2 linked regions of the Homo sapiens genome follow. The protein of the gene in region 2 purifies or fractionates together with the protein of the main gene of each other region. This does not show direct contact. Each region holds a gene or a part of one and is shown on either strand. Other genes may lie near its edges.

The links.
Region 1: the proteins of PTTG1 (region 2) and DECR1 purify together in Homo sapiens (affinity purification with mass spectrometry; 4 studies listed by BioGRID and IntAct, with this or other methods). This does not show direct contact.

What each region holds. Positions count from the first base shown.
Region 1 is NC_000008.11:90,039,255-90,046,555, reverse strand, and holds part of DECR1 (2,4-dienoyl-CoA reductase [(3E)-enoyl-CoA-producing], mitochondrial isoform 1 precursor), read right to left. Parts: intron 3,829-7,301; coding exon 3,756-3,828; intron 1,708-3,755; coding exon 1,561-1,707; intron 1-1,560. UniProt on the Homo sapiens protein: Auxiliary enzyme of beta-oxidation. It participates in the metabolism of unsaturated fatty enoyl-CoA esters having double bonds in both even- and odd-numbered positions in mitochondria.
Region 2 is NC_000005.10:160,424,665-160,429,350, reverse strand, and holds the end of PTTG1 (securin), read right to left. Parts: intron 1,637-4,686; coding exon 1,478-1,636; intron 750-1,477; coding exon 670-749; 3' UTR 612-669; downstream 1-611. UniProt on the Homo sapiens protein: Regulatory protein, which plays a central role in chromosome stability, in the p53/TP53 pathway, and DNA repair. Probably acts by blocking the action of key proteins.

The sequences.
Region 1 (7,301 bases), on a different chromosome or scaffold from region 2:
AGATTTGGTCTTTTCACATAGTCCCATATTTCTTGGAGGCTTTGTTCATTTCTTTTTACTCTTTTTTCTCTAAACTTCTCTTCTCACTTCATTTCATTCATTTGATCTTCAATCACTGATACCCTTTCCTCCACTTGATCGAATCAGCTACTGAAGCTTGTTCATGCATCACGTATTTCTCATGTCATGGTTTTCAGCTCCATCAGGTCATTTAGGGTCTTCTCTATGCTGTTTATTCTAGTTAGCCATCATCTAATCTTTTATCAAGGTTTTTAGCTTTCTGGCGATGGGTTCCAACACCTTCCTTTAGCTCAGAGAAGTCTGTTATTACCAATCATCTGAAGCCTTCTTCTCTCAACTCGTCAAAGTCATTCTCCGTCCAGCTTTGTTCCGTTGCTGGCGAGGAGCTGCATTCCTTTGGAAGAGAAGAGGCGCTCTGAATTTCAGAATTTTCAGCTTTTCTGCTCTGGTTTCTCCCCATCTTTGTGGTTTTATCTGCCTTTGGTCTTTCGTGATGGTGACATACAAACGGGGTTTTGGTGTGGATGTCCTTTCTGTTTGTTAGTTTTCCTTCTAACAGTCAGGACCCTGAGCTGCAGGTCTGTTGGAGTTTGCTGGACGTCCACTGCAGACACTGTTTGCCTGGGTATCACCAGTGGAGGCTGCAGAACAGCAAATATTGTAGAATGGCAAATGTTGCTGCCTGATCCTTCCTCTGGAAGCTTCGTCTCAGAGGGGCACCTGGCTGTATGAGGTGTCAGTTGGCCCCTACTGGGAGGTGTCTCCCAGTTAGGCTACTCGGGGGTCAAGGGCCCAGTTGAGGGGCCAGTCTGTCCGTTCTCAGATCTCCAACTCCATGCTGGGAGAACCACTACTCTCTTCAAAGCTGTCAGACAGGGACATTTAAGTCTGCAGAAGTTTCTGCTGCCTTTTGTTCAGCTATGTCCTGCCCCTAGAGGTGGAGTCTATAGAGGCAGGAAGGCAGGCCTCCTTGAGCTGTGGTGGGCTCCACCCAGTTTGAGCTTCCAGGCTACTTTGTTTACCTACTCAAGCCCCAGCACTGGCGGACACCCCTCCCCCAGTCTCACTGCCACCCTGCAGTTCTATTTCAGACTGCTGTGCTAGCAGTTAGCGAGGCTCTGTGGGCATGGGACCCTCTGAGCCATGCGCGGGATATAATCTCCTGGTGTGCCGTTTGCTAAGACCATTGGAAAAGTGCAGTATTAGGGTGGGAGTGTCCTGATTTTCCAGGTACCATCTGTCAGGGCTTCCCTTGGCTAGGAAAGGGAATTCCCCAACCCCCTGCACTTCCCTTAAACCTCTTTTCTTTATAAATTACATAGTCTCAGGTATGTCTTTAGCAGTGTGAGAACAGACTAATACATCACTGAATAAATGTCATAGGCTAAACAATATATATAATATTTTATATTATTTACAACTAAATACATATTTTAAATGATATTTACATTCAGCATTGTCAGGATTGGTTCCACAACAGACCTCCCTGCCCCAAACACACTCCTGAAAAAAAAGTGAAGAGAAATAAACAACGCTTACTGCTCCATTAATCCAAGAAGCATAATCACTACAAAGGAAAGCAGCAAGATTTGCGAGTTCTTCTACAGTCCCCAGGCGACCACAGGGAATTCTGCCAATCATTTCTTTCTCAAATGTTCCAGTTGGGTCCAGACGGCTAAAGGCACCCTTAGAAATTAAGAAAACAATTAGGTTGTGTCGGGTTTTTCAATCAATTCCTTTCCTACTCAAGAAAAAATGTGTATAAAATGGCATGCTGCCATGCAGCTTAAAACCTTAGGCTTTGTAAGTAAAAAAGAATTTCACCAAATTATTCTTAAAAAAAAAATAGATCACTGGAAAATATAACCCTTTTAATCTTAGTTTCTTCTATGTAAAATGAGGATATCTATCTTAGTTACCTCACAAAATTGTTATAAGCATCAAATGAAAAAATGTATATAAAGGTATCCTGAAATATGTACAAGCTTAGGTGGTAAAGGCAGTGGTATTACTGGCTTTTCATTTAATAAACACAGAAAAGTGGCTCATAGGAAATATTTAAGAGGAAATTCCTTTTCTTTCATCCCAAAGTATTGGAAAAGGAAGAAAACAAGTAGGTAGAAATTCAATTAGATTCTAGAGAGAGAAAAACTACAACTAAATTGGCCAAACAATTTGCTTTCTGTCAATGATGTGAAGGAACAGACCAAGATGAATTATGGATGTGCACTGATTAATAAAAACAACTGGATTTTTCTGTACTAGTGCCTTGAAGTTTAGGTGGCAGTTTTCCTCAATAATGCAGCCATAAGACAGAACAAACACTCAGGGGACTCCATGACAGACCTCCAGTTCTTCCCAGGAGGTTATAAAGCCCAGAGACAAGGGGTTGCAACTGGTCCCAGTCCTGGTTCTAAAAAGTGCATGCTAGGGAGTTTCTACACTTCAGTTTTCTTTTAATCTCTTTAACAGTAAGTAGTTATTATTTGGGTACAACTCCTATCTCAGTGGCTAGACTGTAAACTCCTTAGTGGCAAGCACTTTCTCAGAGATACTTCTGTATCTTTCTCAGTACCCGTAGATACAGTGAACAGTCAATAAATATAGGTTAAATAAATAAAATGCAGGTGATTTTTCCCTAGATATTGGGGTCTTGGAGAGAAGCGTTTGTGTCTATAAGCCTATTTTCAGATATGCTTAGGACAGGGCCACCCTGAATCATGTGTTTTAATGTATGTTTTTAAGTTTCTTTCCACTAATTTTATTAGACTGTTTAGTATTGAATTGTCAGATAAATAAGATAGTCAACAAGTTTCAATCACTCAGGAAGTTTTTGTTTCTATTTCCCATCCTTTAAACTGCTAAATAAACTAATATGGCCATTTCCAAGTTATTTTTAATACCCAGAGCTACCTATAACCCAAAAGTCCTTTAGTATTATTTTCCAATATGTTTACACAACTGAAACAAGTTACCAAATTTTTCCTGGTCTTTCAACATTACATCTGGTTGGCATTATAAATACTTGCTTTAGGTGAAAACCAAGAGAAGTGTGAGTGAAGTTATTTTGGGATAATGAGAGAGCAGAGAAGGTGTGGATATTCTGAGCAACATCTGTAACAACATTAGAGATAATTACAAGTTGCAATGAGTATCCACAAGGATTATTACTTATAGGTGAAATCTATGCTGTCAGAAGGACTTATAATCAGAGACATGTGGGCGTTAGATGACATGCATAATTGACTGAGAGTGAAAGGGCACAAGCATGAGTCAAGGAAAATGCTACCTACCTATAACAAGACAAAGCCTATATAATAAGTTACCAAAGCATCTCTCAAACTAAAAATATAGTTACATTTCCTTGATTTTTTTTAAAAAAGGATGTCAGACAATGTAGGAGCCTTTAAAATGTCATGAAAGTTAACAAATACAGGACAATAACAGACCACTGAAACAAATCAGACAAAGTGCCAACATTGATGGTATAAAAGATCCCAAACGATTAAGACACTGAAATTGACATTATGAAGAAATTGCATAGCTGCTATATTCCTGCCCGCCTCCTTATTTCTTATATTCGATAATGAATAAAGGCAAAGGCCTCTTCCCTAGAACCAGGGCTCTAAACCTAGGCATCTCTGGAAAGTCCTTTACACAACAACCAGAATATACCTATCAGTGTTTCATTATTTAATCATTCACAATGTGATAACAAGCAAAATACAACTTACTTTGGTTTTTATAGGCCCTGGTTGAATCACATTGAATCGCATTCCATATTTACCCCATTCAGCTGCAAGAGACCTAAAAATTAAAATCAACAACATACATTCTGAAATATTATACCATATGTTAAAGACAGTAATAACTGAGACTCACTAGATGCTTACTACATGCCAGAGATTACAACCCCAACAGGTAGGTACTATTATTGTTCCCTATATTACAGATAATGTAACTAAGGCACAGAGAGGTTAAATCATTTTCTCTATGTCATATGGCCAATTTGTCAATCTCAAGAGGTCTAGCTTCAGTCTGTACCCTTAGTCACTCTACTGTACAACCTAACCTTTACATTTTAGTGTCCTTAACCACTATGCTACACCACCTACCATTTGTAGTTTAGAATATATACTTTTGTCCAATGTCAATACACATTTTTAGAGTAGGTATTCATTATTCACATAAAAACGTGAGTGCTTCATGCCCTTCCCTCACATTTTCTGGAGTTCAGTCTTGTAGTTACAAAGTTCATTATAACTTTACTCATAGCCCTGTACATTGGATTACAATGTCTGTAATATCACAAGTGCTTTATTTGAGTAAAAGAGTACATCGATTGAAAATATAAACCACATCCATGTCTAACTAGGCTTTAATATAATTGTTGAACCAAACTTGAAAGGAAATAGGAATCTAACAAAATCTTGCTTAATGTCCTGAAGAAAAATATAACACTAATAGCAAACAAAGAACTTCAAAGGAACTTGTTTTAAAAGCTTACTTTACAGGTAGCTCTTTTAAAATCTAAATTCATTTTAGGAATTTACATTCATATGTATATTTGTGTGTATATATACTTAATGTAATTTCAAATAATGACGAGGTAGCTTAAAAGAATTCATATAATGCAAATGAGGAAGACAGGATAATTTGAAAGGAAGAAGGAAAGAAAAAAAGCAAGATAAAGAGAGAGAAAAGCCAGGATAACGAAATATAACGGAGCCAAGAATGAGGCTAATATCTAAATGTACTGAAGTGTGTGATGTTCCATATAACTGCAATAGTCACATCACAAATTTGTATCTATTCTTCCCATGACTCTATACAAAAAAGGTAAGCCTAATCAGTTACACAATCCACAGTACCCATAAAGAAAAAGCAAGCTAATTGCTCAGGAAAAGCACAATTGTCTCTAATACGAAAAATGCTTTAAGTCTTTCTAGACTTACAAAAGGAAAATTGTACAGTATAACAATCTCCTTAAGACACTGTATCCTTGCAATAGATAAAATGGGCTAAGTTCAAACTTGACAAATGGGATCTAATTAAACTAAAGAACTTGTGCACAGCAAAAGAAACTATCATCAGAGTGCACAGGCAACCTACAGAATGGGAGAAAAGCTTTGCAATCTATCCATCTGATAAATGGCTAATATCCAGAATCTACAAAGAACTTAAAGAACTTAAACAAATTAAACTTAAACACAAACAACCCCATCAAAAAGTGGGGGAAGGATATGAACAGACGCTTCTCAAAAGAAGACATTTACGCAGCCAGCAAACTATGAAAAAAAAAGCTCATCATCACTGATCATTAGAGAAATGCAAATCAAAACCACGAGATACCATCTCATGCCAGTTAGAATGGCAATCATTAAAAAGTCAGGAAACAACAGATGCTGGAGAGGATGTGGAGAAATAGGAACACTTTTACACTGTTGGTGGGACTGTAAATTAGTTCAGCCATTGTGGGAGAGAGTGTGGTGATTCCTCAAGGATCTAGAACTAGAAATACCATTTGACCCAGCCATCCCATTACTGGGTATATACTCAAAGGATTATAAATAATTCTACTATAAAGACACATGCACACATATGTTTATTGCAGCACTGTTCTTAATAGCAAAGACTTAGAACCAACCCAAATGCCCATCAATGATAGACTGGATAAAGAAAATGTGGCACATATACACCATGGAATACTGTGCAGCCATAATAAAGGATGAGTTCATGTACTTTGCAGGGATGTGGATGAAGCTGGAAACTGTCATTCTCAGCAAACTAACACAGGAACAGAAAATCAAATACTGCATGTTCTTACTCATAAGTGGGAGCTGAACAATGAGAACACATGGACACAGGAAGGGGAACATCACACACTGGGTCTGTCAAGGGGTGGAGAGCTAGGGGAGGGATAGCATTAGGAAAAATTCCTAATGTAAATGACGGGTTGGTGGGTGCTGCAAACCACCATGGCACATGTATACCTATGTAACAAACCTGCACATTCTGCACATGTATCCCAGAACTTAAAGTATAATTTTAAAAATGCGCTAAGTTCTATGAAACTATCAGACATCCGTTAATAGTCTTATAGCATCATTTCAAAGGCCAATTCAGTAAAACCAGTTCTACAGAATAGGGTACACGTAATCTCAAGATAGCCTGTTAATCTGACTTAATCCATGAATGTATTTTAGAGAAATGGGTGGGCTGTATCTCTTTCAGACAGAACATACATAAAAATTGCTTCTCTGAGTGATGTTTTTGACAAAGTTCATTGCCATAGCTACCCTGGGCATTTATTTATAGTGTATCTACTCTAAATTGCTTCATGTCTTAATAGAATTACTGTACTGAGCAGAGTCTATATTATCCTATGAAAAACTGAGCAACCTGTTAAGAAAATCTGCCTAGAGGAAAAGCCATCCTCTCTGTGCTCAGAGGTGTGCCAGATACATTTGTTCAATTGCTAGCATGATCTTTCAACTGTCATTAAGCTAGCTGATATACTGAAGAACTACTGTAATCTGATAATGAATCCACCTCATACAGTTATCTCTGCATGTTAAGATGCTAAGAACAATATATGCAATATGTTAGCCATTATTATTGCTCATTCAACCAATGTTTATTATATACTTACCATGTGTCAATACTATAAATATTGCTTAGCCTCAAATAAAGTCAGTCCCTGCTCTCAAATGAGAGTCCCTCCCTCTCAAGAGAGGTGAGCCTGGTTATATAATGAATCAGTTACTAGGCTGGGAATTGTGTGATGTAAGCTATACCTGCTTAAAAGAAGAAGAACCTAAGTGGGAGTGACAAGGAAGGCTTCTCTGAAAAGGTAACATTCTGAGCTGATGGGTGAAGAAGGATTAGGAGTTTGCTGCAAGAGGCAGGGGAAAGGAGGAGCTGAGAGATTAAGAAGGTAGGATGGTGACATGGTTTGGCTCTGTGTCCCCACCCAAATCTCACTCTGAATTGTAATAATCCCCACATGTCAAGGGTGGGACCAGGTAGACATAACTGAATCCTGAAGACAGTTTTCCCCATGCTGTTCTCATGATAGTGAGTGAGTTCTCACAAGATCTGATAGTTTTATAAGGGGCTTACCCCTTCACTTGGAACACATTCTCTTTCCTGCTGCCCTGTGAAGAGGTGCCTTCCACCATGATTCTAAGTTTCCTGAGGCCTCCCTAGCCATGTGGAAACTGTGAGTCAATTAAACCTCTTTTCTTTATAAATTACCCAGTCTCAGGTATTTCTTCATA
Region 2 (4,686 bases):
AAATACCAGCTCTAATAATTTTCTAGCTCTTCACATCTTTGACAAATCAATGAACTTCTGCGCTTCATTGTCTTACCTGGGAAAGTGTCAAACATTAAACATAATAATGCTTCTCAAATACTCATGTCCAACACAAGGTAAACAACTAAATACAGTTTCCTATAGGTGGAGTGTAGACCTTACTATCAGTAAATTATCTCCAGTGATCTTTAAGGAATCTAATTGAAGATCCCAAGGAGGCTGAATTCTCAGATTTAGAGCCTTTCAATACTGAGTATTAAAGTCATTAGAAACTAAGTAGAACCGGCAATAAAGAATGCCCAGCAATAGATACTTAATGAGTTGGAAGTAGCTCTTCTAATTAAGAGATCTAATAACTGTCACTAGTTAATGGCCACAAAAAGTCAATAAAGTACACATTGAGGGGTATACTTTTCAGGAAAAAACAGTGGCAGCTTCTAAAATAAGCTGTTAAACCAAAAAGATTTAAGTTTTTAGACATCAGACAAATCTCTATTGTCACATTATAGACTCTTTGTTAAACACCTCAGCTAGCTTTCATGTTATTTTAAGTAACCTCCATGGAAAAGCAACCACAATACTAGGAAGAATCTGTTAAAGAATGCTTTATTAATACAAATACACACAAACTCTGAAGCACTAAGAAATTTAAATATCTATGTCACAGCAAACAGGTGGCAATTCAACATCCAGGGTCGACAGAATGCTTGAAGGAGACTGCAACAGATCTAGAAAACAGGAATCTCTTATTAAAATTTCTGCAAATCCTTGAGTCATTGTCCATATCAACATAGACATTAGCTGTCAATCAAAAATTCATGTTTTTCCCTTTGTCAAATCAATCACCTGCATCCCCTCCTGACACATTTTTTGGAATGTGTCTGTGGCCCCAGAATTGACTTTCATTAGGAAGTAAGTTTTAGAAGTATCTGAATCTCTATTGTTCTTAGAGACCAAAGTAAGAGTTAACAGTCTCACTAATGTAACTTATTAGGACAAATTATCCCACATCAGAACAAACAGAAAACATAATGTTGGCTTTGACTACCAGTTCAAACGAAGACCTCAGACCTTCTGCAGTAAGAAGTTATTGTCAGTCTATGCTACAGCACAGGTGTTTTGATCTTATATTAGCTTTGGATATAACATGGAATCATCATTCCAAGCAAGTTTATTATATATGCTTCAACTTATAGCCTAAGAAGATGTAAGTGAGAATTAATCTTTTGGCTGTAGTAAGACTATCCAGTTTCCAGAATAACAATTTTACTGGGGCATTTGGGACTGAAAAGCAATATTAATCGAGAATAGTTTATTTTTCTGAAAACTAATCCTTGTCATTTGAAGGACAGAAATTACTCACAGGCTCACCTCCCGCACAACTCTTCCCATGGTAATGGAAGTGTTATGAAACAAATTGTTTGCAGCCCTTCCAGAAGGGCACTTGCTCACTTACTGGATTCCCATGGTGGAGAGGGCATCTTCACAGGTGAAGGGGGGCCCAGCTGAAACAGCTTTTCAAGCTCTCTCTCCTCGTCAAGGATCATGAGAGGCACTCCACTCAAGGGGAGGTGCGCAATCTGGTGCTCTTCAGGCAGGTCAAAACTCTCAAAGTCTGTTACAGAGAGAAAGCGTTTTTGTCAGGGCAGCAGTTCTTAGTGTGGGCTGTAGATCCCTTGTGGTCTGAGACCCTTTGAGGGGGTCCATGAGGTCAAAACTATTTTCAAGACAATATTCACACCTTTTTCCACTGGGTTGACATTTGTAATGATGGTACCAAGGCAGCGGTGGAGAAAGCTGCTGGTGCCTCAACACAAATCAAGGCAGTGACAGTAAACCATATTAGCAGTCTCTCTGTTCTGCATCCTTCTTCGCTTGTAGTTTAAAAATGCCAGTTTCACTTACTGTCACTTCACCATATGCAGTAGAAAGTATTAATTTTATTAGCTCTCCATCCTTGAGATGTCTTTTTAATGTTCTGTGTGATAAAATGAGAAGTATGCCATAAAGCACTTCCACTGTACACCAAAATACGATTAAAAGGATTTGTGCAACTATATGAGTTGCAAGCTAAAACTAGAGAACATTTTCCTGGAATACTGTTTTTACTTGAATTAACAACTGCAAGAAATCCCATGGTCACTCAGACCTGGGTGCTTGTCACACTTTTTCTTAAAGGAATGAAAGAAGTCTATCACCTCAAGGAAAACTGACAGCCTTTGTTGCCAATGGCAGAATATAAAACGTTAAAATTTTGTCAAAAATTAAAAAATGAATATTTTTTTTTTGAGACAGAGTCTCACTCTTTCACCTAGGCTGCAGTGCAGTGGCACAATCTCCGTTCACTGCAACCTCTGCCTCCTGGGTTCAAGCGATTCTCCTGCCTCAGTCTCCCAAGCAGCTGGGATTACAGGTGCGCCCACCACACCCGGATAATTTTTGTATTTTTAGTACAGACGGGGTTTCACCATGTTGGCCAGGCTGGTCTTGAACTCGTGACCTCAGGTGATCCGCCCGCCTTGCCTCCCAAAGTGCTGGGATTACAGGCGTGAGCCACTGCATCTGGCCAAAAAAAGGAATTTTGGAAAACTTATCTGCAGTCATTAGCTTGACAGGTGCTTAGACTTTTCTGATGAGATCAGTTGTGGTATTAATGTGCTTTTGATATTGTATAATAAAGCATCTCAACATGTGGGTATCTACATATCTCAGTGAACCAGTATTTCTGAATGGTCAATGCAAGATAGATGCAAGAATATAAGATACATTCCAAGTGCAAAATAGACCAATGGATTTTACTGTCAAGATACAAAATGCTCATTGATACGGTTTCAGATTCCACATTGCAATTTTATATTCAGAAACAGCCACTTGTGGGTTTTAGTGTAGTGGCAAAAAAACCTATCCACACTTATCTGAAAAGACTATTAAAAACGTATCTGTGTGAAGCCAGGTTTTCTTCGTATATTTTAACAGATGTAAGAGTGAATATAGAATTTGATAAGAATCCAGTTGTCTTGTATTAAGCCAAATAAAGCAAATTTTCAAAAATATAAACCATGCCATTCTTCTCCAAACTTTTCCAGAACAAAAAATATTTTATGTTAAAAAAAAATTTACATTAATGTAATGTGATTACTTAGTGAATAAATATCTTAAGTTTCTCAGTCTTAATTTCTAATACAGAAAAGAGCAGATCACACAAGCAAAAGTGGTCTTCAATAATTTCTAAGAGTGTAAAAGGGTCTTTAAAACAAAACAAAAAAAAATGGAGAACCATTGTGTTAGGTAACATTCATTCTTAAAATCCAAGTACCTTACTTCTTAGCAATTATTTTTAAAAAGTGATTTTTCTGTACAGTAACAAAAGTAGGATTTAACACTGAATTTTCTTCAAGGAGCTGTTTTCTCAAAAGATTAGAAAATCATGGTTTTCCTTATCTTTGTCCGTAGGTGTGAAAGTTCTCTAAAGCCTAAGTACTCAAGAATTAGTCTGCTCTTTTACAAGCCTGGTAAAACCCAGAAGTCAAAAAGGAATTGAATGATATGTGACTATTTAACTTAAAACCACTGAATTGTAAAGGAAACCATAGACAGAAGACTCCAGAGGAAAGAAGTTTGCAATATAAGGGGAGCTAATTTTATCTACAAAGAGCTCTTTAATCAAAGAAAAACACAAACCGGAAGTTAATAAAAAAAGAAAAACTGTAAGTGGCCAATAATCAAATATGTTCACCATACACACAACAAATTTAAAACAATGAAATATTTCTTTTCTGATAAAGATTAGAGTTTTAAAACATTGATAGTGAACCTGGAGGAAGCAGACATCTTCATCCACTGTAGACGGATTTAACAATTTACACTATTTTGAAGGGCCACTTAGCAATATCTCTTTCCTGTAACACAGGATATTGTGGTCTTCATTCTTCATCAATATGCATAAATCTACCTCATTTTCCTCAATGGCTGAATGGTAATTATTAGCACGGATGCACCACATTTTATAATTTTAAAACTTAATCACACAAGCCCTTGAACTCAGCAATCCTTCTCAAAGTTTCCCTCCAGATGTACTCACAAACTTACAACAAGATCATTTCAAGAATACTAATCATAGAAATGTTTGTAGTTTCTAAAAGCCAGAACAATCTGAATGCAAATTAGTAAAATAACTACATGACCTCTTTGGCTAAATAAAAGGGTAAAAGATCCAGCTCAGAAATCCGTAAGGCCCTCCCTGATCTGATCCCACACCTCACCTGTATCCTCCTTTACCCTGCCTGTATTTTTCCTAGAACCACTTTAGTCTCTTTTCCTACCTCACGATCTTTGCACCACTTTGACCTACAATGCTGTTTTTTCTGGCTCACTCACAGTGAGATGACTTGTCCAGCATCTGACTTTCCCTTCAAATTATGGGCTCCCATAGGCAGGGCCCATCTTGTTAAACAGTGTGTCCAGGACCTAAGGATGCCTGACACACAGTAGCTTCTCCTGAAATGGTTGAGTAAATTAAAGCTTGAAAAGCTGTTTCCAAAACAGAAAATACTTCAGATACATGTAGCAGGTTGAAGAAATTTGAAAAACATGTCTTCACTGTCTTATGTAGATTTTTCAAACCAAAGAAATAATCCTACCAAATTACTCTCAGGCATTGCTCAA